Linked DNA regions of Homo sapiens. The protein of the gene in region 1 interacts with the protein of each later gene in a pairwise test. Each region holds a gene or a part of one and is shown on either strand. Other genes may lie near its edges. The genes, in order: TMEM88, C2CD2L, ZDHHC22 and TMEM50B.

What was found.
Region 2: the proteins of TMEM88 (region 1) and C2CD2L interact in binary tests that used the Homo sapiens proteins (3 or more experiments, as listed by UniProt).
Region 3: the proteins of TMEM88 (region 1) and ZDHHC22 interact in binary tests that used the Homo sapiens proteins (3 or more experiments, as listed by UniProt).
Region 4: the proteins of TMEM88 (region 1) and TMEM50B interact in binary tests that used the Homo sapiens proteins (3 or more experiments, as listed by UniProt).

The regions. Positions count from the first base shown.
Region 1 is NC_000017.11:7,850,528-7,856,621, forward strand, and holds TMEM88 (transmembrane protein 88), read left to right. Parts: upstream 1-4,538; 5' UTR 4,539-4,547; coding exon 4,548-4,757; intron 4,758-4,875; coding exon of another isoform or gene 4,876-4,917; coding exon 4,918-5,187; 3' UTR 5,188-5,243; coding exon of another isoform or gene 5,244-5,414; 3' UTR 5,415-5,572; downstream 5,573-6,094. Other genes in the region: KDM6B (lysine-specific demethylase 6B), read left to right, coding at 494-699, 803-867, 951-1,022, 1,121-1,269, 1,424-1,538, 1,622-1,809, 1,968-2,109, 2,473-2,599 and 1 more. UniProt on the Homo sapiens protein: Inhibits the Wnt/beta-catenin signaling pathway. Crucial for heart development and acts downstream of GATA factors in the pre-cardiac mesoderm to specify lineage commitment of cardiomyocyte development.
Region 2 is NC_000011.10:119,102,833-119,110,369, reverse strand, and holds the start of C2CD2L (phospholipid transfer protein C2CD2L), read right to left. Parts: upstream 3,027-7,537; 5' UTR 2,629-3,026; coding exon 2,275-2,628; intron 2,258-2,274; exon of another isoform or gene 1,016-2,257; intron 267-1,015; coding exon 171-266; intron 1-170.
Region 3 is NC_000014.9:77,131,792-77,138,817, reverse strand, and holds part of ZDHHC22 (palmitoyltransferase ZDHHC22), read left to right. Parts: intron 1-4,869; coding exon 4,870-5,135; 3' UTR 5,136-7,026. UniProt on the Homo sapiens protein: Palmitoyltransferase that could catalyze the addition of palmitate onto various protein substrates and be involved in a variety of cellular processes. Catalyzes the palmitoylation of KCNMA1, regulating localization of KCNMA1 to the plasma membrane.
Region 4 is NC_000021.9:33,462,964-33,469,989, reverse strand, and holds part of TMEM50B (transmembrane protein 50B), read left to right. Parts: intron 1-1,063; 5' UTR 1,064-1,104; coding exon 1,105-1,203; intron 1,204-2,867; coding exon 2,868-2,980; intron 2,981-4,580; coding exon 4,581-4,648; intron 4,649-7,026.

The DNA.
Region 1 (6,094 bases):
AAATACAAAGGTCAATCTTGTCTCCTTTATACCTGTATGTTCTCCCTTCCCCACACTGAGTTATTTGAAGCACATTTCAGGCTTTCACTTGACTGAATCTTTAATCTTTAATTGGATCCAATGGTAACTCAAAGAAGCTGCTGTTTTGACTAGACTCCAAATGGGGAAAAAAGAAGCTGCCATTCATTGAGCACCTACTATGTGTCTGTCAGGTGCGGTGCACATGGCCACGCACACATCTGGGAACACTGGTCTAGGGGCTGAGTCCTTGAGCAGCTGCAGGAGAAAGAGGGCTGGTGAGGATGCAGATAGAGGCCAGCACTCCCAGCTTCCTGTGGGGCTAGGGCTCCTGCCTATTTCTTCTGGGCTGAGCTCTGCTAAACCTATGACCACCCTGTCAGAGCCAGAGGAGTAGGAAGGGAAAGGGTCGATTGGGTCCTCGGTCCCTATCCTCTGCCTCTGCCCCGACACCCTGCTCGGCCCTCCCTTCCAGACTTGGGCCTCTTCTCCACCAAGACCCTGGTGGAAGCGAGTGGCGAACACACCGTGGAAGTTCGCACCCAGGTGCAGCAGCCCTCAGATGAGAACTGGGATCTGACAGGCACTCGGCAGATCTGGCCTTGTGAGAGCTCCCGTTCCCACACCACCATTGCCAAGTACGCACAGTACCAGGCCTCATCCTTCCAGGAGTCTCTGCAGGTGAGATGAGAACGTGGCCAGAGGCAGGTCCTGGGACGGGGCTGCGGTGGGAGGGCTCTCGAAAGGTCTCTGACCCAGGCCTGCCTACCCTCTGGCTGAACAGGAGGAGAAGGAGAGTGAGGATGAGGAGTCAGAGGAGCCAGACAGCACCACTGGAACCCCTCCTAGGTACTGTGCAGGTGTGCCCCTTCTGTTCCTGCTTCCTTCCCCTCCCTCTGCTCTCCACCAACCTGTGCTCTTCGCCCCAGCAGCAGCGCACCAGACCCGAAGAACCATCACATCATCAAGTTTGGCACCAACATCGACTTGTCTGATGCTAAGCGGTCAGTGGGGCTGAGGCCAGGGAAGTTGGGGCAGGAGTGCTGCTAGGACCTCGTGGCGGGGGCGGGGTGTAGCCTCTCGTCGCACTTCCGCACCGCAGGTGGAAGCCCCAGCTGCAGGAGCTGCTGAAGCTGCCCGCCTTCATGCGGGTAACATCCACGGGCAACATGCTGAGCCACGTGGGCCACACCATCCTGGGCATGAACACGGTGCAGCTGTACATGAAGGTGCCCGGCAGCCGAACGCCAGGTGCGCTCCACGCCTGTGCGCGCTGATGCTGGAAGCGCGAGAGGAGGGGCTGGCGGCGGCGCTCAGCCGTCAGCCAATGAGGGCAGAGGGCGGGGCTATCGGGGATCGCAGTTCCGACCTGGCCAGCCATGCCGTTCTCTGTCGACCCCTGCAGGCCACCAGGAGAATAACAACTTCTGCTCCGTCAACATCAACATTGGCCCAGGCGACTGCGAGTGGTTCGCGGTGCACGAGCACTACTGGGAGACCATCAGCGCTTTCTGTGATCGGTGCGTGCCGTCCTGCGCAAGTCAGACTGCCGCGTCCCCGCCCTCGGTCCCCAGTTCCCACCTGACCTGTGGCCACCCCGCAGGCACGGCGTGGACTACTTGACGGGTTCCTGGTGGCCAATCCTGGATGATCTCTATGCATCCAATATTCCTGTGTACCGCTTCGTGCAGCGACCCGGAGACCTCGTGTGGATTAATGCGGGGACTGTGCACTGGGTGCAGGCCACCGGCTGGTGCAACAACATTGCCTGGAACGTGGGGCCCCTCACCGGTGAGAGGGTGGGGCAGGTGTTGGCGTGGTGTGGCGCCTCAGCGGCAAGGGCCTGGGAGGCTGGGGCTTGGAGAGCCGCCAGCAGTGAGGGAAGGGGCTTGGGCCTAGGTGTCTGGGGGCTGTTTGAGAGTCCTGTTGTGATCGCCTTTGGCCCGCAGCCTATCAGTACCAGCTGGCCCTGGAACGATACGAGTGGAATGAGGTGAAGAACGTCAAATCCATCGTGCCCATGATTCACGTGTCATGGAACGTGGCTCGCACGGTCAAAATCAGCGACCCCGACTTGTTCAAGATGATCAAGTGAGGACCCTATTTGGGTGGGAGCCCACCTCCACTGACTGGTCCCTTTTCTTGTTCTTCCTGTCTGACTCCACCCCATTTTTACCTCTCTCCATCCTTGTCTGCCTGTGCCCCGAGTGTTACTGTGTTGGGGAGGCTAACTAGGTCCTTGCTGTCATGACCTTTTCTAGTGGTCCAAATAGACAAAAGCCACAGGAAACTTCGCCTATAACAGATGCCCAGGACAGAGGATGTGACCTAGACATGAAGCGGGGAGGCCCCTAGGGGAGGGCCCTGGGGCTGCCCACCCCTCTGCCCTTGCTCCAGCCCTGCCTCAGGCCTCCTCCTTGCCGGTGGTCTCAACACAACCCCACTGCTCCCCAGGTTCTGCCTGCTGCAGTCCATGAAGCACTGCCAGGTGCAACGCGAGAGCCTGGTGCGGGCAGGGAAGAAAATCGCTTACCAGGGCCGTGTCAAGGACGAGCCAGCCTACTACTGCAACGAGTGCGATGTGAGTGGGCCGGCTCTGCTGCTCTCCCTGAGTGTCCACAGTGGCCCTCCCTCCCCCTGACTGCACTGTCCTCCCTGCCCCAGGTGGAGGTGTTTAACATCCTGTTCGTGACAAGTGAGAATGGCAGCCGCAACACGTACCTGGTACACTGCGAGGGCTGTGCCCGGCGCCGCAGCGCAGGCCTGCAGGGCGTGGTGGTGCTGGAGCAGTACCGCACTGAGGAGCTGGCTCAGGCCTACGACGCCTTCACGCTGGTGAGGGCCCGGCGGGCGCGCGGGCAGCGGAGGAGGGCACTGGGGCAGGCTGCAGGGACGGGCTTCGGGAGCCCGGCCGCGCCTTTCCCTGAGCCCCCGCCGGCTTTCTCCCCCCAGGCCCCAGCCAGCACGTCGCGATGAGGCCGGACGCCCCGCCCGCCTGCCTGCCCGCGCAAGGCGCCGCGGGGCCACCAGCACATGCCTGGGCTGGACCTAGGTCCCGCCTGTGGCCGAGAAGGGGGTCGGGCCCAGCCCTTCCACCCCATTGGCAGCTCCCCTCACTTAATTTATTAAGAAAAACTTTTTTTTTTTTTTTAGCAAATATGAGGAAAAAAGGAAAAAAAATGGGAGACGGGGGAGGGGGCTGGCAGCCCCTCGCCCACCAGCGCCTCCCCTCACCGACTTTGGCCTTTTTAGCAACAGACACAAGGACCAGGCTCCGGCGGCGGCGGGGGTCACATACGGGTTCCCTCACCCTGCCAGCCGCCCGCCCGCCCGGCGCAGATGCACGCGGCTCGTGTATGTACATAGACGTTACGGCAGCCGAGGTTTTTAATGAGATTCTTTCTATGGGCTTTACCCCTCCCCCGGAACCTCCTTTTTTACTTCCAATGCTAGCTGTGACCCCTGTACATGTCTCTTTATTCACTTGGTTATGATTTGTATTTTTTGTTCTTTTCTTGTTTTTTTGTTTTTAATTTATAACAGTCCCACTCACCTCTATTTATTCATTTTTGGGAAAACCCGACCTCCCACACCCCCAAGCCATCCTGCCCGCCCCTCCAGGGACCGCCCGTCGCCGGGCTCTCCCCGCGCCCCAGTGTGTGTCCGGGCCCGGCCCGACCGTCTCCACCCGTCCGCCCGCGGCTCCAGCCGGGTTCTCATGGTGCTCAAACCCGCTCCCCTCCCCTACGTCCTGCACTTTCTCGGACCAGTCCCCCCACTCCCGACCCGACCCCAGCCCCACCTGAGGGTGAGCAACTCCTGTACTGTAGGGGAAGAAGTGGGAACTGAAATGGTATTTTGTAAAAAAAATAAATAAAATAAAAAAATTAAAGGTTTTAAAGAAAGAACTATGAGGAAAAGGAACCCCGTCCTTCCCAGCCCCGGCCAACTTTAAAAAACACAGACCTTCACCCCCACCCCCTTTTCTTTTTAAGTGTGAAACAACCCAGGGCCAGGGCCTCACTGGGGCAGGGACACCCCGGGGTGAGTTTCTCTGGGGCTTTATTTTCGTTTTGTTGGTTGTTTTTTCTCCACGCTGGGGCTGCGGAGGGGTGGGGGGTTTACAGTCCCGCACCCTCGCACTGCACTGTCTCTCTGCCCCAGGGGCAGAGGGGTCTTCCCAACCCTACCCCTATTTTCGGTGATTTTTGTGTGAGAATATTAATATTAAAAATAAACGGAGAAAAAAAATCCTGTTTCGCTAACGGCTGGTGGTAGCAGGTTGAGTACCGGGAGGGCTGCAAGACCGTGATTGATGGGGAGGACTGCGCAGACCCTGGCGAGGGTGAGCCCCTCCCCGGAGGCGCCTGTGGAATGTCCAGGGCTCTGGTCCGCTCCTCGGGATGGGGGGTGCCTAATCCTAGAGCCGCATTCCAGGATAAGGGGGGTGGGGAGAGGCTGGGCCGGGGGAGGGGCAGGAAAGAGGGCTATAAGGGCAGCGGCCCAGGCGGGCGGGATCCAGGCGGGCCATGGCGGATGTCCCCGGGGCACAGCGAGCGGTTCCTGGTGACGGCCCAGAGCCCCGGGACCCCCTGGACTGTTGGGCCTGCGCTGTTCTTGTAACAGCCCAGAATCTGCTGGTGGCTGCCTTCAATCTTCTCCTGCTGGTGCTGGTGCTAGGGACCATCTTGCTACCCGCTGTCACCATGCTGGGCTTCGGCTTCCTCTGCCACTCTCAGGTGAGCGTGCGCCCCGGGGTGTGCGTGTGAGTGTGAGTGTTGGTGTGTGGTGATGCTGGCGGTGGGGTCTATGGGCCACAACTTCAACCCGCCTGGGCTGTTTCCACCCCGTGCACAGTATCGCCTGGTCGGCTTGGGCCTGACGCCTCTTCTCCCACAGTTCCTGCGCTCCCAGGCACCCCCTTGCACCGCGCACCTGCGGGACCCCGGTTTCACGGCCCTACTGGTCACCGGATTCCTGCTCCTCGTGCCGCTGCTCGTGCTTGCTCTGGCCAGCTACCGCCGCCTCTGCCTGCGCCTCCGCCTAGCCGATTGCCTCGTGCCCTACAGCCGAGCCCTTTATCGGCGTCGGCGCGCCCCGCAGCCGCGGCAAATCCGGGCCTCACCAGGGTCCCAGGCCGTTCCCACATCAGGAAAGGTCTGGGTCTAATGACCCTCGAGTCAAGAACAACCCTGACGGCTGCCCTCCCTCTTATTCGGCCCAAGGACTTGAAGCCCGGCATCTTCCGACCTGCCCTGCCCCCACCCCTGCCTGAGCGGAGTCCTAGCATCCCCTTGGGAGCAGCAGCGTCAGTGGACCCAGTGCTGAGAAAAGCCCCCACATCCCGGAAAACCCACTTTCCTTTCACGACCCACATCTCAATCCTGAACATCTAGGCTGGAACCTGCACACCTCCCCCTCAGCTCCGTCGTGAATGGGACAACAATCTCGTGCCCTCGTTTTATGGTGCAGCTTCTCTAGTATTTCTGGGGCTGGGGGGCGGGGCTGGAGGGGAAGGAGTGTCCACGCATCAATAAAGATTTAACGAACTGAACGCGCTCTGCGAACAGAGGCGTGGCACAAGTACTATCACCCCTGCCCTGTGCCGAGGAACAGGAAACATGTGCCAGGGCTACAAATGAGCAGAGAGGAGCATCCTTGAGCCCCCTGGCCTTATCGCTTTTGTCCGTTCTTCCTGGCCAGACCTCAGAGATCTGTTCCTGACCCCAGGCACCTCCCCCTCAATAGAGTGGAGGGGCCCAGCCTCGGCCGCCTGCCGCTGCTCCCCTTGGGGACCTGAGCCCGTTCTCTGACCCCAGCTTAGAGGAACTCGGTGTTGCCAGGCCGGGGTGGGAAACAATGGGCCTTCCGGAGCAGGATGACACCCCCTCCCGCCACAATTCTGGAGCAGCAGCCGTGGGAGGGAAGATGCAGGGGCCCACCCTGGGGCCTGTTGGTCCGTCATTCAGCCCTGCCCCCCATCTCTACCCCTGAACTTGAGAGAACCTTTGGCACCCCTGGACATCTTGGTTGGGAGAGGAGGGTTGAGGGTGCTCCCGACTTCAGATGAGCCCTT
Region 2 (7,537 bases), on another chromosome or scaffold:
CATCCAACATTTTGCACATAACTTCAATGGGATTCTCAGACTTCCTGAAACCAATCCTTAGATCCATAAGGCATTCACAGACTCCAGGTTAAGAACCTCTGGACTAAAGGGAGCCCTTGGGGTCAGTCCTTCTTGGACCCCAAAGAGGGCAGTGCCCATCAGACCCTTACCATGGTATGCTCAGATTGGTCTACGCAGGTCACATGACTGATGCTGGCTCTGGGTGGGAGTTGGGGCACCTCCTCAAAGGCGATTTGGATGGAGCTCTGAGGGAGTAATGTGGGCATTGGATCAGGTCTCTGGAGCTGCCCCCCACAGGGTTGGCCTGCTCAGTTGCTGGCTGGACTCTGCCACTGCGGAGGCCTCAGCTGCAGGCTGGCTTCTGGCCCCTCCTTGGCTCAGGGCTTTAAGACAGGAGGTAGTCCCCTCAAGGCCTGCCTCTCCAGGGGCCTGTAGCTGCTAGGAGCCACTGAGCAATGGGGAGGTAGTCCACCTCAGAGACTAGATCACCTTAAGCTGAAGACCCTGGCTTCCTCCTGGAATACCAAGAGCTTCCTTCTTCTTCTCCCTGCAATCCCTTTCATCCCCTACCCTACCCCCTAAAAAAACAAATAACAAACAAACAAAAAATCCTACATAGAAAAAAGTTAAGGTGCTGGTTGCCACCTATATATAATAGCTGGGCAGAGGGAAAGGGCTAAGCCCCGGTAAAGGTGGTAGAGCCACCTTGTTCAAGATAAGAGCTGCAGAAATGAAGCTAAGCCTTCTTCCAAATAAATAAGATGTGGAGGCTTCAAGAGTATGATGCTTCATATTCTTGGAGATGAAGATGAGCATGGCCTTGGGGATCCGTACCAGGGGGACTGGGAAGAGATACAAGCTCAGAGGACCCAAGAGTCCAGGGGCCTGGCTAATTCCTCAAGGCAGATAGCAGGACGGTATTAGAGAGCAGAAAGCTGCTTAGATCTCAAAAGAGCTGCTCCCTAATTCGTCCACAGTAATGGAAGCAACCTACCGCAGCCCCACCTGGAGAGCAGTGCGGACACAGAATTGAGGAAGGGGCACAGAATTGGCTGGCAACTCTTCCTTGGGTCTTGAGATGGAGGAAACAAATCCATAGGGTTCATTTGCTTGGCAAACCAGGGGAAGCCAACTCCTTTGCTCTGGTAGCTGTCTCATTCAAAGGCTAGGCCAAGGAAGATGGGGAGATGGATGCTTGAAACCTCAATCTCCCCACCCTCTGCAAGGGAGGCCAATGTCCAGTTGAGTCAGCTATCCTGGGGAGTTGCTTCTGACCGAGGGACAAGGTACAGGGAGAGTTGGATGAAGAGGTGGGTTCAAGGTGTAAACTGACAGATGCCATCTGGCTTTTAGCCAGCCAGCTGGACAGAGTAAATAGAGCAATTTCTTGTGGACATTTCTGTTTCCGGCATCTGGGGAACTAGTAAGGTAAAGCCTCCAAACTCATAGTGGCTGGAAATAGAGAACCCTCTGAGCAAGGAGCTGATGGACTGTGAGAGCAAGGAGAGATTGCTGGGTCAGGATGGGAGGGAGCTCCAGAAAAGAGAGACTTCTACCTCCCACCTTATCTCCATCTCATGACCACGCTTCCTGCCCCACTTCCTGGGAGGCCAGATGCCCATGGTGCAATGGGAGGAAGTAGGCTGGACTGGTTTGTGACTGACCCTCAAGGGGCAGTTCCAAGCTCATCTACTGGTAGGGGCACTGTCAATCTGCTCTCCACCTGAACACTCCCCAACCCCCAGTGAACCACAGGCCAGCATGGAGGAGAAGGATGTGTTTGACTGTAGCAGTGAAATTACTGTCGGGTAGGGGGGTGATTCAGGCTCCTTGGGGATCTGCCTGACCACACCAGGGATTTGGGGCATGAAATGTTAAATGGGTGTGGTGGCATGAGAAGCAGGCAAATTCCTTCTGCAGGTGCACCTGTCTCCCATGCCCCAACACAACCAGCACCCAGGCAAGGCGGAAGTGCCCTCAGGCACAGGGATTAGCGTTGCTATGAGAACAGCAACTTGTGCATGGGTTTGGAACCAGAGTACCTTGCCCACAGAAATGGAAGTCTGGGGACCCAGTTGGATTTCTACAACCTCCAGCCTTAGCGGCACCCTTTTCTCTGATCCGGGAGGGGAAGAGAAGCCATAGGGTTCCCCAGTTTATGCCCACCCTCGTCTGGCCTCCTAGCACGAGCAGTCAGTCCCTCCCCTGGAAGGAAAGGCTGAAGGGACCACCCAAGCGCTTGGTCCAACTCACCCCGTTTCTGCAGGCCTGCTCGTTCAGCGCTCGCACCCAAGCCCGCTGCCAGTTCTCCCGGAAAGACTTGAAGGCGAAGAGTGACGCCAGGAGGCCCCGGACTCCTGGCTCCTCGGCGGCGCCAGCCCGAGTCGCCCGCAGCCGCAGCAGCGAGCGCCACACGCCCAGCTCCCGCAGGGAACCCGCGGGTTCCCCGGCTAAGGCGGGTCCCGGGCCCCGGTCCCCGCGGGCCCGCGCCAGCCACAAGCCCCGGGCATATTGCAGCAGCCAGGCGAACACCGTGAGCAGCGAGGCGGCGAAGAGGATCAGCAAGGCCGCCCAGCCCACGTCCCGCTGCCCCCAGCCCGGATCCATGCTCCGCGCGGGCTCCGATCCCGGTCCCGGCTGGGGCTCACCCGCTGCCCCGGGGGAGCATGGCCCGGGCGGGCCGCGGGGAGGAGGTGGGCTCCCCCGGGGCTGGGCGCGCGGGGTCGGGGGCTCTCCGCGGCTGAGTGCCCAGGACTAGTGGGTGCCACAGGGCGAGGAGAGGAGGTCCTCGGGGGTCGCGATGCCGGGGTCTCTGTCTCCGTGGTCCGGGTCTCTCCTAGCTTGGTCAGCAGTCGGACCCGTTAGTCGCCGGCCAGTGCCCGACTCCTCCCACCGCGCGGGCCCCGCCGGACCCTGGAGGGGACTGGTCTGCAGAGACGCTGGGGCTCGCGGGCCGGCACCGGCTCCGGGAGGGCTGCGTGCGCAGAGCTGACACTGACAACACCGCCGGCGCCCCGCCCCCACCCGCCCTTAAAGGAGCCGCACCCGCGCCGGGCGGGGCCAGGACAGCCTGGCGCTCCCTCGCTGGAGGAGGGCGGGAGGGCTAGCAGCGAGCGGAGGAGGTTCCGGGGTTGAAAATAGGCGGGATCTTTGATCACCTCGCCCCATCTTGCAATCGCGGTGCTCCCACACTCAGCTCAAGGCAAGAGTAACTTCACTTACCTAAGATGCTGCCTTTGCTTTCCCCTATGCTTGTTAGATTTCCACAGGTCGGACGCCTGTGAGGTTAAGAAGGAGGTGACCCCTGTGGAAATCACCGCCCCCTTCTCCCAACACCCCCAGACTCAGCGACTTCTAGCTTCCCATTTCCTGGGGGAAGCTAGGCCCAGGGTAAGGAGACGCAGAGCGTCCCTCCCAGATAGAAGTGTCTGGCAGAGGTCCAGCTGATGTCAACAGAGAGAAAGCAGAACCTGAAGCTGGGAGAGGTTGAGAGTAGAACACCGAATTTGAATTCCCCCCACCATCATCACCCTCCTTCCTCTTGGAGCTTGGACCCAGAAACAGCCCCATTAACCTCCTTGCTCGTGTAGGTTTGTTCTGGAGATTCCCAAGCCCAGGCTGTGTGTCTGTTTTTAAAAATAATGTATTTCCATAGTAACAGCTCCTGCCTATGGAGCACGTGTAGAGGGGGTGGTAATGACAAGGGAGCTGGCAATGTAGCACTGGACTATCAATAGATTCAGCCACAAGACCTTGCCACTCTAAGTATGTGATATCCCAACAAGCTCCCAAGAAATGGTGCTGTAGGTACACTGCCCAACCTCTGGCCTCAGAAGCCATCTTTTCCTAGACTCAAGGAGTTGATTCAACCTCTACAGGACTGGGGCTCATCAATGCTTGCTGAGGACAGGGGAAGGAAATACCTGCAAAAGGATTCAAAGGAATCCTGGGGGAATTCACATTCTCCCAAGAGCCCCTTCTTCATACATGTGGGAAGGTCTTTGGCACACAGTCCCTTTCTTAAAGAGGTAGGATGGAAAGGTGTTAAGTATCTTTCTCCCAAACCCAAGTAGTTGTCTGAGGAATGAGCACATGAGAATAAGAGAATAAACAATGCCTTCTGAAGTGTGGGATGGCAGGGCTAGACAGAAACTGACAGGTCAGCAACAGGTTTGTCTGAGCCAGAGGAGGTGGTGGGGTAGCCTGGGCCTCCCTAGATTTCCCTGTAAGGAATGATGGGGAGAGGTGGGGGTGAATGAGGTAACCTCCTGTGGCCCTGCCCATGCATTGTCACTGGACTGCCAAATCAGTGGAGATTCCTAGAGTCTGGGTTTCTAATCTCAAAGGGAGGAGAAGACATGAAATCAAGGGAGGAGAGAACTCAGGGCCAGAACCAGGGATGCAGGAGGAAGCTGTCAGTGGGAAGAGCAGCTAGGGTTTAGGGGAGCAGGTTATGCAGGAAGTTGTCCAGGTAGAAGCTTTCCCTATGAAGACCCTCTTCCCCCAAGAATCCTTCAGGAACCCTCAGACCCCCTAGTGATCTCCATTCTCTGACTTCTTTGATTTATTCCCTCAACTTCTCCACTGAGTGCTTGGTCCTATGCTGCCAGATACTGCTTCACAATTCAGTATCTGAACTGTGAGTCTACCTAGTTACATGAGTCTCCCTAGTTAGTCCTCCCTCTTTTTTTTTTTTTTTTTCTCTTTTCTTGAGACAGAAAGTCACTGTTGCCCAGGCTGGGGTGCAGTAGCGAGATCTTGGCTCACTGCAACCTCCACCTCCCAGGTTTGAGTGATTCTCCTGCCTCAGCCTACCAAGTAGTTGGGACTATAGGCATGCGCCATCATGCCTGGCTAATTTTTGTTATTTTTAGTAGAGACAGGGTTTCACCATGTTGGCCAGGCTGATCTCGAACTCCTGACCTCAGGTGATCCTCCCGCCTCGGCCTCCCAAAGTGCTGGGATTACAGGTGAGAGCCACTGTGCCCAGCCTAGTCCTCCTTCTTTCTTCCATTACTTAGACCTCTAGCACTTACATTCTGCCTTAGAGTCTAGCTGATTGTTTATATGTCTGCTTTTTCCATGCATCAGGAAGCTGCCTAGGGGTGGGAACCATGTCTTAGTCATCTCTTTTCCCTCAAATTCAACCAAGATGCTCCAAATATGCTGAAGTAGACTCCCTGGGGGCAAGCAACTGCAATTATATTAGTTTGTATCCTCCACAGTACTGAAGAGCTTCCTATGCACATAGTAGGGATTAACAAACTTTGTAATTTTAAGAAGTCTAACAGAAAATACTCAAGTATGCTTTGAGAATTTCTATGCCATTTCTGTCTTTTGAAATATCATTCATGCCATACCAGTGGAATGGGAAATCCTGGGGCTTGCTTTTAATTAACAACTTTTTTCTAGACTAAGAGGGGAGAGGTGGGAGGAAAAGGAAAAAGAGTGATTCAGCTGACTGGACAGAGCCACAGATAGAGTCCTGCAAGTATCACAGCCCCAGACTATCCAGAGGGGTCTCATTGTCTTTGTGGCACTATGAAACATTTTTGGGACAGGCTTTGTCTAGCAATCACATTCAGTGGATTGGCCTTGCTCATTGGGAGCCACTCAAGGCTACTTAGAAGAGGTGTGCATCTCAAACACTGTCTGCTCAGTCCAGGGCCACTGACAAGTCAACTGGTCTGTGAATCCTAGGGCCGGCTTCAGCATTCAGGAAAACGCTTTGAACTTTTACCAGGGAAGGCACACAATTTCAAGTGAAGCCAAAAGTCATGTGTTTGTTTCTCCTTCTGATTAGTCTGATCATCAACTGGGACTTTATCATCATGGGAACAAAAATACTCAGATTATCTGACAAGTATCTTAGTAACCATTTTCTGATAGTAACATGTATATGTGGATGATGAATCCTTAGTCTCTCTTGTCTTTGATTACATCCTTCCACCCTCCCCAGGAGGGTGGTGGTAGGGAGGGCTAATGATCTCTGGAGAAGAAAGAGATAAAGCTTCCCAATACCAGGCTGGGAAGGAAGATTTATTAGGATTGGCCTCCTAATAAAAAAGGAAATAGATACAGACTGGCTCTCAGACCTCCAGGGAGTCTCAGTATACTCGTCATCAACAAGATAACTGAATGCTGCCTCCTCTGGGATCCCACAAGCTCCTCCTTTCCACCAGCTTCTGGTGTCTCACTGTCGCTGCCTGTGAAAGGTCCTTCTACTCTTATAATCTACTGAAATGATACTTCTCTTCCTCAAGACCACTTACTCTGGTCACAACTAATTGCTCCCTCCATATGCACCTATTGCCCTCAGTCCTCCTTTCAGCCTCAGCCTCATTATGTGTGATGATGCCTTCCTTGTACACAGATGTCTGTGTTCCTAGCCCCATGGGGACACCCTGTGGAAGAGAAAACACTTGCCTCCCGGGAGTTTCTAGTTTAAAAGGGGCACACGTGCATACACACAACACACACAGAAAAATAATAGCAGTGGGATAAGTACTGAAAATCTGGTGGAATACTAGCAAGTAAATTACGAAAATTTATGTATTTTATACATATCTGGGTTTTTGTTGTTGTTAATTAGAGCCATTTTCAAGTAGAAAAGCCATTTCACATCTGATTTAGTTTGTTTGTTTGTTTGTTTTGAGACAGTTTCCCCTCTGTTGCCCAGGCTGGGATGCAGTGGCATGATCGCGGCTCACTGCAACCTCCTCATCCCAGGTTCAAGCGATCCTCCTGCCTCAGCCTCCTGAGTAGCTGAGATTACAGGCATGTGCCACCACACCCGGCTAATTTTTGTATTTTCAGTAGAGACGGGGTTTCACCGTGTTGGCCAGGCTGGTCTCGAACTCCTGACCTCAAGTGAGCCACCCACCTTCGCCTACCAAAGTGCTGGGATTACAGACGTTAGCCACTGCGCCCGGCCTCACATCTGATTTTGAGGGAAAGAAGAAACTATCTTCGGCTTAAAAACGGTCAACATGACCCTGACTCCTGGAACATGCCATAGAGGGAAGAGTGGACAAAGCGCTAGGCTATTGGAGTCCTTTCCCTAACTCACTGGTGGTGACTTCCTCTCTGACAAATGGAAATCATTTGCCGCCTAAGAGCCTGTCGGGGAATGAAAGGTAATAAAGATGCTGGTGAACTGGCTGGGCGTGGTGGCTCACGCCTGTACTCCCAGCATTTTGGGAGGCCAAGGCGGGCAGATCACCTGAGGTCGGGAGTCCCAAACCAGCCTGACCAACATAGGGAAATCCCGTCTCTACTAAAAATACAAAATTAGCCGGGCGTGGTGGCGCATGCCTGTAATTCCAGCTACTGCCTGTAATCCCAGCTACTCGGGAGGCTGAGGCAGGAGAATCTCTTGAACCTGGGAGGTGGAGGTTTCGGTGAGCCGAGATCGCGCCATTGCACTCCAGCCTGGGCAACAAGAGCGAAACTCTGTCTCAAAAAAAAAAAAAAAAAAAAAAAAAAAAAGCTGGTGAATTGTTGTTTGCAGGGGAAC
Region 3 (7,026 bases), on another chromosome or scaffold:
AGGTACAACCATGCTATGACATTCCTCTGCCTGGTCCCCAGTTCTGCTTACATGTCACCCAAGGACTCTGCTCTCCAGAGGTCTCACCAACCAATTGCAGTAATATTGAACTTGTTGCCAGCCCAGCCCAGCAGGAGGCTAAGCTCTGTCCTCCTGCCTATTATGTTTGACCTCACCAGCCTGTTCTCCAGCCTGCTGATGGCTCAGAGCAGAGGGAACGTGGGTGGGAGAGGCAGGTTTTTTGTTTTTTTTTTTTAAGACAGAGTCTCACTCCATCACACAGGCTGAAGCGCAGTGGTGAAAGCAATCTCTGCTTACTGTAACCTCTACCTCCCAGGTTCAAGTGATTCTCTTGCCTCAACCTCCCGAGTAGCTGGGATTACAGGTGCGTGCCACCACGCCACACTAATTTTTGTATTTTTAGTAGAGATGGTGTTTTACTGTGTTGGCCAGGCGGGCCTTGAACTCTTGACCTAAAGTGATCCGCCCACCTTGGCCTCCCAAAGTGCTGGGATTTACAGATGTGAGCCACTGCGCCTGGCTGAGGACTGCACTTTAACTAGTATGCACCAAGGACCACTACCTGATACCTGGCCCTAGAAGGACTCAGCTCCTGGTGGCAGTTCTTACCACTTTATTTGGCCTTGAGACTGGCTCCTACTGCGTTTCCTTCCACTTCCTCCCTACCCTGGCCTTTGACTCTGAATGGCTTAGCTTCCACAATCAGTAGTGTCTACGTGCTTGAGTGTGCATGTATAGCATTGCTATCTCCATTTCTCAGATGATGAAACCGAGACTCAGACGGGACTAAGTGGCTTGCCCAGTGTCTTCCTGCTACTGAGTGGCAGTCTCTGGTCTGCCTCTCAGGTCCTTAATCCACAGCTCTTCTGCAGTGGCTCAGGGAATAGAACATGCTTCCTCACCTGTTGGCCTTCTAGGAGCAAAGAAAGGCAGAGGGCAGCTACTTCCTCTGAAAGCCCAAGATTGTTTTGAGGTGCCTGGGCTGAACATTCATAAAAATTCTGCTCTACTCTGGGGGAAGCCATCATTTCAGTCTTTGTGGTGGCTACAGCCCAGTTCTTCCCAGGCATAGAACTATCATGCCATTTGGCAGTGGGAACACAGAGATACAGGGGGGACCCAGCTACGGGGGCTGCCTTCAGGGCTGGTGGCTGAGCTGGGTCCAGAACTCACAGCTTTCAGGCCTTCTGGATCCCAGCACTGGCACAGGAGGCTGCCGGGACCAAAATAACCAGGACGGGGGAGGGTGGGTGGGTGGGCTAGTGGGTGGAGTGTGAGCACAGGCAGGTGGAGGGATGAAGAGAGCCAACAAGCCTGCTTATACTTTCTTTTCCAAGTAGTTTCGCCAACCGTAAAAATGGATGGTTCCAGAAGGAAGACCTTGAAATGGTTTGATTTGAGATAAATCTGGGCTTGAGGCCTGTCCATATGTGCTAGGTTTGATCTGATGGGAGAACAGAGCCAGTGAGTGCCCACCTTGGGGCCCAGACTCCTGTGCCAGCATGAGTTCCAGTGTCTTTCACTTCCTCACCATATCCACTGGAAACAGGCGAGCAAGACTTCTTACCTCCAACTCTCCTATCTCATCTTTTGTGACCTTTCATCTTTCCTCTTGAGGACCTTCCTTTCTTTCCCTCCCATGACATACACCCCACCTGTTTGGCTTTCCCTTTCCCATTCCTCTTGTTCCCCAACCCTCAATCCGAACAGTTGGTAGCACCCTCTCTCATCTGCACAGGAGGACAGGTGGACAGAAAAGAGTAAGAAGCATGGGTTGTTTAATAGAAATTGAGTTCAAGATCAGCCTGGGCAAGATGGTGAGACTCCGTTGCTACAAAAATAAAAAATAAATAAATACACTAGCCAGGCATAGTGGCATGTGCCTGTTTTCCCAGCTACTCAGGAGGCTGAGGTGAGAGAATTGCTTGAGCCCAAGAGTTTGAGGCTGCAGTGAGCTATGATCATGCCACTGCACTCTATCCAGCCTGGGCTACAGAGCAAGACCCTGTCTCAAGAAAAAAAGAAAGAAAGAAATTGAGCTGTCCCCAACTGTGGTACAGATCTGAGTCAGATCTGTCACCAGAGCATGGATGGCTGTGAGTTTGGGCCTTGAGAGCTAAAAGTGGGAGGGGTCTTCTAGTGTGAAGGTGGCGGCCAACCACAGGCCCTCAGCTGATCCAGAGAGGGAGGCGGCTAGCTAGTTAGGTTTCAGAAGTTACCCTTTCTTTTGGCTTTGTGGGACCAGTACAGGTTGCTGTGTCACCTCTCTGAACCTTATTCTTATCTGGGAAATGGAGATGCCACCATCTGACCTGTATCTTGGCATTTGGGTAAGTACACCAGCATGATGGGTGCTACCAGAAAGTCCAGTAAGAGGGAAAGGGGACTAATGTTCATTGAGCACCTATTATGTACCACCCACTATGCATGTCACATTTCACCCATTCCTCTTGACAAGTCCATATTATCATGTCCATTTTTAAGGCTCAGAAACCAAAGACTCAGCAAGGTTAAGTTGCACCAACACCACACAGCTGGTACGATTCCAAACCAAGATTTGGAGTTGGGGCTTCTAGCCTCCAAAGCTCATACTCTTTCCACCCACCATACTGCCTCTTGGGGGCTGCCTCTCTGAAGCTGCTTCTCGAATGAGCCACTTTGGAAGGGAGGCAGCTACTTGTCCTTGGATGTATTAAAAAGTATGCTGGGTGATTATTTGTCAAAGGTGTTATAGATGCCTGTTGGGAGGAAGGGGCAGGGGAGATTGACTGATGTGTCCTTTTAGGCTCATTAGGAAAATTCTGTGATTTTTAAAAAGAGGCAGAACTATTATTAAATAGTTAAGAGGAGCTGAAGCAGCCAGGCTAGGTAACTTCAAACACTTTTAGAGAAAGCAGGTCCCCAGAATAGCCTTTTGTAGCTGCTGCATGGGGCCAAGAAAAGGCCGCAAGTTCTTTTTCTCATGCCTTGATTTAGTGCCAGGAAAAAACCCTGTGGGAAATGGCTTCCATCCACCCAGGCTTGTTCCTGGGGCAGTGTTGCAAGGCAGGCCCAAGCTTGACAGCTCTGATGTTCTCACATCCCAGCTTGAGGGCCACCTTTGCCTGTCAGCATTCCTCACGCCAAAGAGCACCATGGACCTGGGATCCTCCATCCCCCACATGGCTGCCCAAGCTAATCTGTGCCGACATGGAAGAAGTGGGTCAGGGGATGGCACAGCCCAATGTGAGCCCTGTCCCACTGCTGCCCCTGTGCCAGTGGAGGGGCTGCTGTAAATGGCAGCTGGGCCTATCTGTCCCCAGCTTTGTAAAAAAAAAAAAAAATAATACAGCTATCCAAGCTCCTAGGGATGAGGACAAGAGGAGGCTGCTAATGAGAGAATCTAAATCAGATCCACATCCTCCATGGCTGCTGAGTCCACCACTGCTCATACTGGACAAGTGTTGAAAGCCCAGTTGACAGGGCTTTGGAAATTGGAGGTTGGAGAGACTTGGGAAGAGGTGGGCTGGGGCAAGAGAAGGCTAGGGAAAGGGCAAAATATGGTTGAGATTTTCAAGGGCAGAATAGGTTGTAAGGTGGAGTCCTTAGAGGAGGTGCCCCCCCCCCACCAGAGGAGGTGATAGGGTTGCCCTACAGGGAACCAAAGGCTAAGGAATACTTTCGAATTAACTCCAGGGTCCAGTGCCCTGGCTGCTGGGTAGGTCAAGGTAAGTGTCTTTGCCACAGCTGCCAAAGTTGCAGCCCAGCCAGGACTCTAAGCCCTGAAAAGGAGAAGGAAAAAGCTTGATAGTTTCAGGAGTTGAACTCATTTTGGATGTAGTCTCCTGCTCTGTAAAATGACCCTCTGCTGGGAGCACCGCTCTGAGTGTGAACCGGAATGCTGACCACTCTGTACATCATTTTCTTGAAACATGCAGCTGTATGAAATCGTTAGTGTTATTATACCCATTGTACAGATGAACGAGCTGCAACTGAGAGGTTGGGACACTTGTGCCAGTCCACACAGCTGGGAGATTCAAACCTAGCATGGACCAGCCACCCAAACTCTGAGGAAGAGTGTGGGAGCTCTTACTCAGTGGTTATTTCAAACCAGTAATAGGAAGTGCTTGGTTTAGAGGGATTCTGGGGAGATCCTGCCCCACGACACAGGGCTGATGACCTTGGGGGCCTCTTCTAGCAAGCTTTGATTGACAGAACCAGCTCTGGTGGAATGCGGTGGTGGCCACACTGTCCTCTTGTTAACATTAATGACTGAATTATTCTCTACGTTGGTGTTCTGGGCTGCTCTTCAGACTAAGCTCGTGACTTATTCTTCCCAGATCTCCATCATGCTGTCATTTTCCTGAGTCCTCTCAACCAGCGTTCCCAGAACAGTAGGGAGAAGGTGCTGTGGACTAGACAGCTGCCCAGGCACCTGCTCCCTCTTTAGGGTCCCCAGCTCACCCCTCTCTCCTCCTGAGCAAAACCCCTTCACCCTGCTTCTAGCCCAAAAGGAGAAAGCAGAGAGAGACAGGCATCTCCTACTCTACAGAAATGTTATCAGCGGCCAGGTGCTGCCCCAGGAGCTGAGGGCTGTCCTTGCTAAGCTCATCAAACTTAGCTCTCTTCTCTGCCATGTCTCCAGTCTTCCCCTCTTGCCTCAGGTGCCATCCGCGCCAAGAAAAAGTTAGGGCAGCTGGTTCTTCCTTCCTCTCCCTCACTGCAGCTGCAGCGCTGAGGTTGCTACAAAATGTAGCGTCAATCTCATTAATCTCCCTCCCTCCCGGTGGAAAGCCTGCCTAGATCGCAGTTATGCCGGTGGCCTGGGTGTAAAGCGGCTCTGGTGTTTCCCCTCCCCGTGCCCTGCAGGAGCTGTCCTGGGTTCTGAAATGTTCGTCATCCTCATGCTCTACCTCTGGTTCGCCATCGGCCTGGCCTGCGCCGGCTTCTGCTGCCACCAGCTGCTGTTGATCCTCCGCGGGCAGACCCGCCACCAGGTGCGGAAGGGGGTGGCAGTGAGGGCCCGGCCCTGGCGCAAGAACTTACAAGAGGTCTTCGGAAAGAGGTGGCTGCTGGGCCTGCTGGTCCCCATGTTCAATGTCGGAAGTGAGAGCTCCAAGCAGCAGGATAAGTAGTAGACACTCCCGTCATTTATCTCTCTGTCTCTGTCTTGACTCCTCCTGAGCATAAAACCATGGCAGCCTTGTCTCCACCCATGACTCACTACAACCTTGTGCTGGTAAGGTCCTAGCATCTTCCCCTCACCTTCCACCCATGAGAACAGCGTGAGCTGGTGGATCATGACAAGGAGGAAAAATGTCCCCCCAGGCATTTCTAGGCTCCTCACGAGCCAGCCAGGTGGCTGCTAGCTGTTAGGCTGCCTCTGCTTTCTTTCCGTCCCCTTGGGATCCCTGCTTTCCCCCTCTTCCTGGCTCATCCATTCTCCACCGTGTCTCATTCATCACTGCTGTCTGCTAGAGCCCTTCCTCTCAGCCCCCATGTTGGGAGAGGGGAGTGGATTCTTGCTGCTGGTATGAGACTCCCTGGGACCTAGAGGCTGGCAAATGTTTAAAATCACCACGTGTAAGAGGCAGCCAAGTCAGCTCTGCCAACTGCTAGGGGAGTTGGGAAAGAGTGGGTGTGTGTCCGCATCCCCTCTGTAGGAAAAAGAACTTAGTAGCTTGCTGCTCCCTCACCACCCCCCACCAGGTTCAAGACCCTTTTTCTGGGAGACAGCAATCAATGGCCTGCTTTTTCCAAATGTTATTCCCTGTCCACCCTGCCCCATCTGGCCGGCCCAGCCCAGTCCAGGACCTGGCTGGATGCTTCCTGTCCCTGGAACTCTTCCAGCCTTTCTACTTGATCTCCAGCCCCCAGGTCTTTGCCAGATGATGGGAAGGCAAGGAAGAAGGGACAGGGAAAGATAATTACTGATAAATGAAGGGGATATTCGACTGTATAACCATATGGAAGTGTGTGTGTGTGTGTGTGTGTGTGTGTGAGAGAGAGAGAGAGAGAGATGGGTGGTGGTGAGAAGTGTTGTTAGAAACATATAGGAATAATGCCTAGGGGAAAGGGAGAAGTGAGAGGGACAATTGGGTTCATTTATGCCCTATACAAAGGGCATTCCAGCAGCTGAAACTCTTCAATGTTTGAATGGCTGCCTGTGAAGGTAGTGAGTGCCCCATCACTGGAGGTATTCCAGCAGAGTCTAGGCAGTCGTCTGCCAGGCATGCTGTGGAAGGGATTTCTGTACAGGGTCATTCTAGGTGAGCTTACACATTCCTTCCAACCCCAAGGTTCTGATGTCCTGGTTGTGATTGCTGGACCCAGAGGCAAGATCTGCAGAGATGCCTGTGAGATATTTGCTTTCCTAGAGGGGAGTGTGGGCATGGGAGGGGTCTGAAAATCAGGACCCAACCCAGCCACTGAAGAGAGAGTCTCTGCAGAGACAGGGCTACCTGGGTGGTTGAGGGGACTGACATTTGAGGACAGGGAGATGGAGCAGTGTCATTGTCAGTGGCAGGGCATGGGGGGCAGTGGTGAGCTAAGGCTGAGGAGTGGAGATGACCAGAATATAAGGGTGCAATTCCCAGACCATCCCTGCGCATCTGACTGACTCCGGTGGAGGCACTGCTGTGTGTTTTCTGAAACCTAGAGGACCAGACCTCTGGGGCATATAAGGGAGTAGGGACAACACAAGTGCCCCCTCCTGACTGGGTCCCAAAGCCAATATGACATCCATGCAGGCAGCAGTGCTGAATCCATGCCCTGCAATGTCCAACCGCCAACTGCAGTGACCCGCTGATAGCTGCGCAACAGCCTGGGTTCTTGAGCAGAGATTGGGAGGACTTTACTGTGGTTCTGCCTTCACACCCCCTAGAGAGCTAATGTAGTATTGGCTCCACCTGCTCACATTTCTCCCTCCCATACTCATTCCTTCACTCATCCATCCTACGTATATTTATTGAGTGCCAACTACGTTCCCAGCCTCTTCCAGGCACTGGCAATGCAGTGATGAACAGG
Region 4 (7,026 bases), on another chromosome or scaffold:
TCTTCCAGTTATGTCTTACTGCGTTACAGATTAATGCCAAAACCCTGTGGCTTAAAACAGTCATTTTATTATGTTTATTAGATTTTATGGGTCAGGAATTTGGAAGGGGCATAGCCAGGATGATGTATCTCTGCTCCATATATCTGGTGCCTTACCTGGGAAGGCTCAAACTTTTGGGATGGTGCTATAGCTGGATAGCAGTTACCTAAAAGTGTCTTTACTCATGTCTGGCAGTTAATACTAGCTGTTAGCTGGGACCTCAACTGTAACTGTGGGTCAGAACACCTATAAATGGTCTCCTTACAGCATGGTAGCCCAAGCATTAGTGTTCCAGAGAACCAGGCAGATGCTCCATTGCCTTCTGTGACCTGATCTTGGAAGTGGCATGGAGAAGTTACATAGCATCACTTCCTCTACTCTACTGGTCTACTAGTCTTTATTGTTGACCCAAATTCAAAGGTAGGACATAAATCTACCTCTCAATGGAAGAAGTGTCAAATATTTTAGATATGTTTAATTTATTTCATTTATTTATTTATTTTTGGACAGAGTCTTGCTCTGTTGCCCAGGCTGGAGTGCAGTGGCATAATCTTGCACTGCAATCTCTGCCTTCCAGGTTCAAGCAATTCTTGTTCCTCAGCCTCCCGAGTAGCTGTGATTACAGGCATGTGCCACCACGCCCAGTTAATTTTTTGTATTTTTAGTAGAGACAAGGTTTCATAATATTGGCCAGGCTGGTCTCGAACTCCTGGCCTCAAGTGATCTGCCCACTTTGGCCTCCCAAAGTGCTGGAATTACAGGCGTGAACCACCTCGGCACCTAGCTCCTAGACATGGTTTAAAACCATAGTGCTCATTTATCAAATAGCAAGCTCCCCCTTGGGTCCTAGCGTAGTCCTATATACATCTCAATTAGGTACTTGTTGAAGTATTGAATTTTTCTTAACTATAGTAGAATAGGACCTAAAGTAAAGTTGTGTGTAAAGCTTTAAGAAAGGAGTAAGGTATTTTACTTTTAGAAAACATTTTCTTAGGTTGATTAGTTTTTGTCTTTCTGTTTGTAGGATACAGCATTTAATGAAAAATTTATGCTTAAGAAGTAAAAATGGCAGGCTTCCTAGATAATTTTCGTTGGCCAGAATGTGAATGTATTGACTGGAGTGAGAGAAGAAATGCTGTGGCATCTGTTGTCGCAGGTATATTGGTAAGTGAGAAAGACTGGTTGGTGACATGTATCCCTTACCTTTTGCCCTGGAAATTAATGCCGGTTCCTTTGAACTGAGAATGGCTTTCCAGAACTATTTATTTCACTGCTGTTTTGTATAGATGATTATCAGAGTTCTAGATACTATTGCCAAGCAGAATATGGTAGGCCCTGGATTCATTTTGACTTTGTAAATGTGTACTTAATATCTTTTCTTCAGTTCCAGTGATAATATAATTATTATAGGCAATAGCATTTTTAACTTACTGATACAACATATATGTAAGTACTTTAAGATCCTTAAAGGCTCAGAATTTGATGTAACCCAAAATTATTGTTGTGACTTATTGAAGGTCAGACAACAGTGACAGTACTCTGCAGATAATAGTAACAACCTTAGGCTCCATTGGAACTGAAGCCCTGCAGCGGCTCTAGGGAAGAAATACCATCTCTGTTTCCCCAGCTGCAACATCAGGGGAGCATCAGAGGAAGAGATTTGTGAAGGAAACTATTGTTTAATTTTCTTTCCATCATTTTTTAACTTTAATTGAAAATGACAGGCATAAAACAAAAGCAGAGAGAATGGTATAAAGATTCCATCACCTCCTTTATCCCATGTGTCTATCATCCAGCTTAAAAAAAAAACACCCCAAAATCAGGACCTATCTTGGTTTATAATTCCATCAACCACTCTCTGTCCGCACTTTTTTTTTTTTTTTTAAAGAGACGAGGTCTTGCTATGTTGTACAGCTACTAGAGTACAGTTGCTATTTACAGATGTGGTCGTAGTATACTACAGCTTCAAATTCATGGTCTCAAGCAATCTTCCTGCCTCAGTCTCCCAGGTAGCTGGGACTACAGGTTCATACTACCATTCCTGGCTCCCACAGCATTTTTTGGAAGCAAATTTCTTTATCTGTTTACATTTTAAAAATTCATCTCTTTCAATGTACAGTTCTACACCTAAAGTCCAATAGAAAAACAAAATGAAATGAAGCAGAGCAAGAACTAACGATAATTGTGAAGCAGTCTGCTCACTGCAGTCTCCGCCTCTGACTTCCCAGGTTCAAGCAATTCTTGTGCCTCAGCCTCCCAAGTAGCTAGGATTAGAGGCACATGCCACCATGCCCAGCTAATTTTTGTATTTATATTTGAATGTTTTTGAGACAGAGTCTCGTTCTTTCGTCCAGGCTGGAGTGCAGTGGCGTGATCTCAGCTCATTGCAGCCTCCACCTCCTGGGTTTAAGCGATTCTCCTGCTTCAGCCTCCCAAGTAGCTGGGATTACAGGTGCCTGCCACCATGCCCAGCTAATTTTTGTACTTTTAGTAGAAACGAGGTTTCACCATGTTGACCAGACTGGTCTCAAACTCCTGACCTCAGGTGATTTGCGCGTGTTGGCCTCCCAAAGTGCTGGGATTACAGATGTCAGCACTGCGCCCGGCCTTGTATTTTTAGAAGAGATGAGGTTTTACCATGATGACCAGGCTTGAACTCCTGACCTCAAGTAATCCACCTGCCTTGGCCTCCCAAAGTGCTGGGATTACAGGCGTGAGCCTCTGTACCCAGCCCATTTATATGATCTGTAGGACAAAAGGAATGTTAAAAAGCAGGTATTGTGCTAGCAAGAGTTTTAATGTTTCAGTGACTTGGGCTGTGTTTTAAGTTTTTTACAGGCTGGTGGATAATGATTGATGCAGCTGTGGTGTATCCTAAGCCAGAACAGTTGAACCATGCCTTTCACACATGTGGTGTATTTTCCACATTGGCTTTCTTCATGTAAGTATGAAGATAATTCTCTATTCAAGGTGATTTTTCTAAAAATACTTTCCTGTTAATGTGCAGTGCTTTCTTGAATAACTTTTTAATTTATTTGATAGACTATTTTTTAACATGATACATACATAATTCCCATTTTATTACGATTTTTTTTAACCAAGAATGAGTGTTGGATTTGGTCATATATCTTTTTAGCACCTATAACAATTATCTTGTGATTTTTTTTTTTCCTCATATTTTTAAATCTGGTCAGTTACATATTTTGTCAGTTGCAAGATCTACTTTTTCGCATTTTAATACCTCTGAATATCAGGATGCATCTTACAGTCAGTGGTATCTTAGAATTATAATTGATAACATTTTTATTTCTTGTCAGTATTAAAAATTAATGGTGTATCTTAAAACTGATGGCTCTGAGATTTCATGAAACATGTTACGTTTCTGCATTTTTTTAGTAGTAAATCACCCGTAGGTGTTGTAGTACACTCAACTTTTACCTTGCAGTATTATTTTTATTTTTTTTAATGTGCTACTTGACTGTGTTTGCCAGTGTTTGAGGAAAAGGCAAGATTGGCCTCAAAAGAGATTTGTTTGTGGCTTTTGTTTTTATTAAATTATTTTTAAGTTTATGTTACCTCATTTCATAAAAAAGCTTGGAAGCTTTTTATGGATGTCTTTTAACAATTAAAAAATATTAAACATTAAGATTACATCATTTCCTTATACCATCAGGAGGTTTTTTTGTTTTTGAGACAGAGTCTTACTCTGTTGTTTGGGCTGGACCACACTGGTGTGATCTTGGCTCACTGCAACCTCTGCCTCCCGGGTTCAAGTGATTCCCTTGCCTCAGCCTCCCAAGTAGCTGGGATTACAGGTGCCTGCCACTACGCCCAGCTAATTTTTTGTATTTTTAGTAGAGACGGGGTTCCACCATGTTTGCCAGGCTGGTCTTGAACTCCTGACCTCGTGATTTGCCTGCTGTGGACTCTCAAAGTGCTGGGATTACAGGTGTGAGCCACTGCACCTGGCCAGGAGTTTTAAAAAGGTTATATTTTGGAAAATGGAACTACTTATATCCATTGTGGCTTCTAAAAAAAGGAAATTCCTGTTACTAATTAATGTACCTTGCTCTAACAAAAATGGAAGGGGAAGCTGAATAAAGTGGGCATATTATACATAAGCTACATTTTCTCTGAGCTTAAGAAATGGATCATAGAAAATCACTTGACTTTTAACACAAAGAGAAACTGTTTAACTCTTGATAATAATGAGAACCTTGAAGTGGGATAGCACTGAGTCATTCATGTATAAATGTGAAATAGACAAAGAATCCAGAAAACTGGTCCCTCTTGTATAATCTCTGGAGAGAAGTGATAGAAATCTCTTAAAATAAATGTGTTTTCTGGGTGTACTTTATGAAAATAAGACTAATGTAACATTTCTATCAACTAGCATTTTTATTAGGTTAAAAATATGTTAAATTATTCAGATACTGATTTTAGTTATGAAATAATCTGTTTTCCGTCTAAGTGTTATATAAATATTTGAGTATTTTAACAGCGAATACTGAAATTCATTTGATGATTTTGTGCCGTTCTAGGATAAATGCTGTATCCAATGCTCAGGTGAGAGGTGATAGCTATGAAAGCGGCTGTTTAGGAAGAACAGGTAAAGATACTTTGAGCTGTTAATGGGTGTTGACAAAACAGAAATTTGTCACCAGAAAAAAAGCCTCTCTTGTGAGTCTTTATTCAAGACTGGTAATGATTATATAGAATATTTTTTATTTGCTTTAAAACAAAGTTTTAGTGTTATTCAAATCCTTAAGAAAGTAAGTTATTGCTAGAAGTTACTGTTTTTGTCATGTTACACTGCCCATGATATAGATAAAAAATGTTGCTATTCAAATGGATCTTGGACTCCAGTGCTAATGATGGATTTATTATTATCCCAATTGTTGACCAATAATGTTACTTACAAGATGGCTGACTATGATTATTAACAGGAAAGTAATGAACACATTAGGGGATCAAACCTAGGACTACAGTGTCTTTACATTCACTTCTGATCACCTGAGTAGCCACCTACAGACTGCAACAAAATTGTTCAGTAGAAAGATGCTATTTGTCTACACATAAATTAGTTTTTATAGTTTGAATTCATTTGAATTGTTATCCAATTTTTGTTTTTTTTTTTTTTTTTTTTGAGACGGAGTTTAGCTCTTCTTTCCCAGGCTGGAGTGCAGTGGTGGGTTTTTGGCTCACCACAACCTCCACCCCCTGGGTTCAAGCAATTCTCCTGCCTCACCCTCCCGAGAGCTGGGATTTCAGGCATGCGCCACCATGCTTGGCTAATTTTGAAGTTTTAGTAGAGATGGGGTTTCTCCATGTTGATCACGCTGGTCTCGAACTCCCGACCTCAGGTGATCCACCCACCTTGGCCTCCCAAAGTGCTGGGATTACAGGAGTGAGCCACCGAGCCCGGCCCAATTGTGTTTTTTAAACATTTACGGCCGGGCGCAGTGGCTCACGCCTGTAATCCCAGCACTTTGGGAGGCTGAGACGGGTGGAACACCTAAGGTCAGGAGTTCGAGACCAGCCCTGCCAACATGGAGAAACCCCGTCTCTACTAAAAAATATACAAAATTAGCCAGGCGTGGTGACACACTTCTGTAGTCCCAGCTACTTGGGAGGCTGAGGCAAGAGAATCGCTTGAACCCGGGAGGCAGAGGTTGCGGTGAGCCGAGATCACCTCATTGGACTCCAGCCTGGGCAACAAGAGTGAAACTCCGTCTCAAAAAAAAAAAAAAAATTTACATTATAATATGAAGAAATTAAGGTACAGTGGGCTTACATAATGTGTCCAAAGTCACAGAGCAAGTAAGTGGTGGAGCCAGGATTGAACATGGACAGTCTGGCTCCAGAGCCCATGCTTTTAGCCACTATGCTGTGCTTGTTTCCCATCTAGAACCATTTGGTCACTTTGTCTGGTTTGGTATCACGTGTATATTTTTTCTTTTTGTCAGCTTAATTGAATATAATTTAAGTATAATAAAATTCACTAATGTATTTATTATTTTATTAATTTTTTTTGAGACGGAGTCTCACTCTGCCACCCAGGCTGGAGTGCAGTGGCATGATCTTGGCTCACTGCAGCCTCAACAGCCTGGGCTCGAGTGATCCTCCTGCCTCAGTTTCTCAAGTAGCTGTGATTATAGGCACATGCTGCTGTGCCCAGCTAATTTATTTATTTTTTGTAGAGACAGGGTTTTACCACGTTGTTCAGGCTGGTCTTGATCTCCTGGCCTCAAGCTATCCACCTGGCCTCAAGCTATCAGCCTCCCAAAGTGCTGGGATTGCAGGCATGAGCCACCACGCCTGGCCAGAATCCACCAATTTAAAGTGTACAATTTGATGAGCTTGATCAAATGTGTACAGTTACAGTTGTGTAACTACCACTACAATCATGATACAGAACATTTCCATTGCCCCAAAAAGTTCCCTCATACCCCTTTTTATAGTTAATACTCTTCCCCTCACCTCGTGGCCACTACTGATCTACTTTCTATGATGGTTGCTTTGCCTTTTCTATGATTTCATATAAATGGGATCATATAGTAAGTATCATAGCCTTTTAAACCAAATAAAGCAGCTTTGAAGAGCTTAGCTTTCTTTTCTACTTGATGTTTTATTTTTTAAATTTTGTATTTATTTTGTTTGAGACGGAGTCTCGCTCTGTCACCCAGACTGGAGTACAGTGGTGCGATCTCAGCTCATTGCATCCTCCGCCTCCCAGGCTCAAGCAATTCTTCTGCCTCAGCCTCCTGAGTAGCTGGGATTACAGGTGCCTGCCACCACGCCTGGCTAGTTTTTGTATTTTTGGTAGAAACTGGGTTTCACCATGTTGGCCAGGCTGTTCTCAAACTCCTGACCTCAGGTGATGCACCCGCCTTGGCCTCCCAAAGTGCTGGGATTACAGGCATGAACCACCATGCCCAGCCTTCTACCTGATGCTTTAAATGCTGATGTAGATTTTGTAACCTCACT